2 separate regions of the Homo sapiens genome follow, and region 2 is linked to region 1. Evidence: fine-mapped expression QTL. A gene starts in region 1. The other region holds a variant in brackets. All regions are shown on one strand. Distances are between the middles of the regions. Region 1 holds the start of DHX36 (DEAH-box helicase 36). Region 2 has its middle 64 kb from the start of DHX36.

Region 1 (2,500 bases):
AAGACAGACTTAACCACATACATAATAGAGTTCACAGAAAAAGGTGATTCAGGGAGGTAGAGTTCTGACTTATCTACCATCTTATAAAGGGAAGGAAAGGGGAAAACAGCACGTATGGAAAAAACAAATGACTTTTAGTAAAAATAAATGACACCTTAAAACAGATGCCAGATATGATAGCTTTGTGACAATGTCTATTCAAGTGTGTTGCCAGCTTCTAACCTCCAGTGATAAGAGTCAGTCTTCCTGGGTTTCCCTCCCAGGGAGGAGCTTGATTTGAATTCCTCCGTGTGGTTCTGCATTTAGACAGGTAGATTTCAGAAACTCAAATGTCTTTGCTCAAAATAATTTTTAGGCCACAATGGTGTATTGTAGACCCCTTCCTGGCATACAGCATTTCCCTTTCTTAATTCACTGCACAAAGATAGCCTTTGTCTTTCCCTTAAGACTGTAGGCAAATAAAAGCTCATGCCATACTTGCTTTGTTCAGTGAGTATTCCCAGCACCTTTACATCAGTTAACTGTAACATGAGCTGGATATCTCCTGGTGTACATCCAAGCCTGTGTGGCCCAATTACTTGATTATTCAAGAACAGCTTGTACAAAACACTCAGTGTGCTGGTTAATAAACAGTATGTGGCTTCATATGAACACATGAATCTTCAAAGTAGTTTATTTACATTGCCTAAGAGCTCTGCACCGAATTTGGGTAGACACGCTCATCTTAACACTATTGGATAAACGTACTAAATAGTGACAACACTTTCAAGGAGGTAAGGGGATTTTAAATTACATATTTGAATAGTTGTCAGGCTGTTTTCAAGACTAGAAGAACTCATTTTTTAGAGACTTTTCTTTAGAAGACGGCGAATTGATCCAAGGGTTCTTTTGTTTCAATCAACGTTTACTACCCTAGGACCTAAGTGCAAAAAAACTGCGGATTTACCAGGAATAAGAAAGTAAAAACCAAAAGCTATTGGCTCACTTGCTGGGCCTAGGGAAAGAAAATCTACGAGCCTTTGGCTGGCTGTTGCTCCAGAGGTACAAAGATAAACAACTCGGGGGCTCAGACAGAACCTGATCCCTGCCACCCTCCAGACCACCGGGGTCGTCCTCCCGTGACGTCACCAGAAACCACTGCTTGTGACGCTAAATGGCCCGCCCTCTTGTGCGGTGCTACGGAAGCAAAACGGAAGTGGGCGCACAGTGGCTTCCGGGCCCGGACGCCATTTCCAGCGGTTGCTGGTTCTGACGGGTTGTAGTCTGCCAGGACAATGAGTTATGACTACCATCAGAACTGGGGCCGTGATGGGGGTCCCCGCAGCTCCGGTGGGGGCTATGGAGGGGGGCCAGCAGGGGGTCATGGAGGTAACCGAGGCTCCGGAGGAGGCGGCGGCGGCGGAGGGGGTGGTCGAGGCGGCAGGGGCCGGCATCCCGGGCACCTGAAAGGCCGCGAAATCGGCATGTGGTACGCGAAAAAACAGGGGCAGAAGAACAAGGAAGCGGAGAGGCAAGAGGTAATCTCGGATTCAGTAGTGGAGAGGATGAGGCAGCACAGGTTTTCTTCTCTCTCCCGCTGCCCCCTTTTTCTTGGTTTTGTTTCTTAAGTGATGCACGTGTTTTGTGAAATGTAAATGAGGCGCAAATATATTATGCTGGCGCTCCCCGTAGCGGGTGTACTGCGTAACATTAGCCATGCTCATCTGACCAAAAACAGGCAGGATTTATGCAGGCTGAATATATACTTTGCTTAAAGGACTTGAGAACTGTGACAAAGCAAATGTTAAGTTCACGTTCCAACCGAAATTAACTTTATTAGGAGTGTCGTTGTCGTATCTCTGGCCGTCCTTTCCCTTAGAATAATAATTGTCACTTTAAGGTCTTTGCCTGGTGAAGAAGCACATAGCGACCTTTCTACATTTGAGATAGGTTTGCGCGGAACAAAAGCAGGCAGACACTGTTTTGGATGTGGATCATTCAGAAAAATAGTCCAGCTTTTATTATTAGTGTTAAAATTATCTGCAAACCTAGGTTTTTGTTTTTTATGTTGGGGTGGAGAAATTTCTATTGATGAGCAGATTCTCTTTGAAAAGGAAAATGAAAGGAATCTCCAGAGATGATTTGGCTTACTCTCCTCTCTTCAGGTGATTGTCAGGTTGATTTGTGTCTTAAAGATCTGTAGTAAGGGAAACAAAGTTCTCCGAGTGACTAGTAAATAAAATTCTAATAAAAAATAATTTTTATCATTAAGCAGGAACTTTCTTAGTATAGGCCTTTGGTGACTTTTTAAAAGCACCTTATAAAATGTATTATAGAGTGTAATTAGATCATCATTTAGGCAACTTTTTTTTTTTTTAAGACAGGGTCTCACTCTGTCGCCCAGGCTGGAGTGCAGTGGCACGATCTTAGCTCACTGCAACCTCCGCCTCCCAAGTTCAAGCGATTCTCCTGCTTCAGCCTCCCGAGTAGCTGGGATTACAGGCGTCCGCCACCACCTCCG
Region 2 (3,037 bases), 64 kb after region 1:
TGCTGTTCTATTTTTGCTTTCTTTATATATTTTTTTCTTTCCTGTTTCCCTTTTCCTGCCTTCCTGTGGGTACCTGATTTTTTTCTTATTTTTTACTGTTCTGTTTTGCCTTGTCTATTGTGTTTTTAAATATATCACTTCGTATACATTTTTTGTTGCTCAGTGGATTACAGTATACATATATAACATCAGTTGACTAGTATCAACAGTTTGACACTTCTAGTGAAATGTAAGAACTTTACAGCCACTTAGGTATTTAGCTTACTGCTTTATAATTTATTTTCTTAAATAATTCCTTTACATACATTGACAACCATGTCAGATAATATAATTTTGCTTTCAGCCATCTCACATTTTTAAAACTCAAGGATAGCCTATTATATTTACCCAAATGTTTACCCATTCTGTTCTTCATTCCTCATCTTCCAAGTTTCATTCTGTTATTTCCTTACTTTGAAAAACTTTCTTCAGCAATTCTTTTTTAAAAATTAATACTTCACTTTTTAGAGCAGTTTTAGGTTTACAGAAAAATTGAGCAAAAGGTACAGAGGTCCCATAATCCCCTTTACCCCCTCCCACCAGTTTTTTTAAATTAACATCTTGTATTATGGATTATATTTGTTATAATTAATGAGCTAATTTTGATACTTCATTATTAAAGTCCGTAGTTTACATAGGGTTCACTCTTTGTGTTGTACATTTTGACACATGTATATGTATCCACTATCACCGTATCAGAGAACACTTTCACTGCCCTAAAAAATCCTCTGTGCTCTACCTATTCTTCCCTCCCTACCCCTGAGTCCCAGGCAACCACTCTATGTGGTTTGCCTTTCCAGAATGTCATTTATTTGGAGTCATAAAGTGTGTAGGCTTTTCAGATTGGCTTCTTTCACCTGGCAATGTGCATTTAAGGTTACTTCATGTCTTTTTATGGCTTGATAACTTTTTTTTATTGCTCATTAATATCCCATTGTATAGATGTAACAGTTTATCCATTCATCTATTGAAGGACATCTTAGTTGCTTTCAAGTTTTGACAATTATGAGTAAAGCTGCTATACACATTTATGTGCAGGTTTTCCTGTGGGCATATTTTCAACTCATTTGGATAAATACCAAGGAGTGTAATTGTTGGATCATATGGTAGGTGTGTATTTCTCTAAGAAACTGCCCAACTGTCTTCCCAAGTTGTTTTTGCATTTCCATCAGCAGTGAGTAAGAGTTCCTGCTGCTCCACATCCTCATCAGTATTTGGTATTTTCAGGGTCTTAGACTTCAGCTATTCTAATGAATATAGTGGCATCTCCTTTAAATTCATCCCTCATGTATGATCTTAGATATCTTTTCATATGTTTATTTACTAATTGTGTTATCTTTGGTGAGTTGCCTAGTTCCCCCCCCGCCACCCCTGAATTTGAACACTGGGTTGTTTTTCTGTTGAGTTTTAAGTTTTCTGTATGTTTTTGATTGCCAATCCTTT[G/ATG]TTTTGCAAATATTTCCTGTCTGTGGCTTTTTATTCTAACAGTGTCTTTCACAGAACTGAGGTTTTTACTGTAAAAGTTCAACTTACCAATTTTTTTTCTTCATGGACCATACTTTTTATGTTGTAGATAAAAAGTCATTACCAAACCCGAGGTCACCTAGATTGTCTCCTATGTCATCTTCAAGGAATTTTATAATTTTGCATTTGGAAAGGCCTAACTTTCCAAATAAATTGATAATTCTTAATTTTTGTTTTCTGACCTACTTATGTTGCCATCAAAGAACTCACTCTGCATAACTTCAGTTCTTTAAAATTTGTTGGAATTTGCCTTATGGCCCAGGGAATAGCCAAATGTTGTAAATATTTTATGTGCTTGAAAAGTATGTATATGCTGAAATTGTTTGCAGAGTGTCCTATATATTCCCATTATGTTAAACTATTTCATTAAAATTTTCTATTCTTTTCCTGATTGTATCTATTCTTCCTATCAAATACTGAGAGATGTGTTGAAGTCTCATGCTATGATTTTAATTATTTTTTCTTATATTTCTGCCAACTTTATTTAGTTGAGGCCATATAGTTAAATATGCTAGGTTATTGCTAGAATATATATTTAAGTTACTCCATCTTCCTGATTAGATGAAACGTTCATCACTATGTAGGCACCCACTTTATCCCTAGTGATACCTTTTACCCTAAAGACCACTTTATGTAACATTGATAGAGCTCCATTTAGTGAACGTTGTGATGTTCTGCCCTGACCCCCCATCAGGACTGAAGGACTTTTTGCTTTAGGTGCTGGGAATGCAACTGGATGACAGCCTTCACCCATCAACCCTCTATGGGAATTGTCCTGAGCTGAAGGGAGCCACCTTATCCAAGACCACTCTCTTTTCCTGGGGATAGCCTGCCTCTCATATCTGGTCAGAGCAGGGTTATAAAGGTCCAGCCCCTTGCCAATGCTGCTTTCTCTCTCCACTCTCCTCTGGGATTCCAGTTAAATCCCTACATTCTCCAGGTCTCCTCTCTCCATGCTTCCTTATGGGTAGAATCTTCTAGCCTCTCTTCCCGTTCCCCAATATCTCTTTTAACTCTTACCTAATCTGGCATTAAACGCGGTTCCATAATTTCTAGGTTTTTTTCTTCTACTACACAGCTGTGTAGTTCCGTTATGGCTTTATCTCCATCAACAGCAATGGTAAGTACTTTAATGTCTATACCTAATGATTCTAGTATACAGAGTCCCTGTGTTTGTTTTTTTCTGGATCACAATGCCATGTCTTAGTGTTTACTGAAACTTTGACAATTTGCTTTTAGAAGTAACAGAAGTCTTAGTTCTGATGATGCTGGTTTCTTTCAGAGACAGGATGTGTTTTCTTCTTCCAGGACTTTAATATACTGAAAACTCAGAAAGCAAACCTTTAGATCTTTCAGATTCATACTCCCACAGGAGAATAAGCCCTTTAGGGACCAAATCCATGAGAAGTGTTATTAATGGTACTAAACACTGACCTGGATTATTTTTTAGCACTGCAAGTCCACCAAGTAGCTCTGC

The links. PIP is the estimated chance that this variant, and not a neighbour inherited with it, causes the effect.
Region 2: its variant is fine-mapped to the expression of DHX36 in ovary (GTEx, PIP 0.94).

What each region holds. Positions count from the first base shown.
Region 1 is chr3:154,323,191-154,325,690 of GRCh38, reverse strand. DHX36 (DEAH-box helicase 36) reads left to right here and starts at 1,204. Exons shown (of 25, transcript NM_020865.3): 1 at 1,204-1,517. The coding sequence starts at 1,275. RefSeq lists an enhancer at 1,017-1,311.
Region 2 is chr3:154,259,095-154,262,131 of GRCh38, reverse strand. No RefSeq gene overlaps it. Among named protein-coding and RNA genes, the nearest start is that of DHX36, 64 kb to the left of the region's middle. The variant G/ATG (reference allele first, on the strand shown) is at 1,483.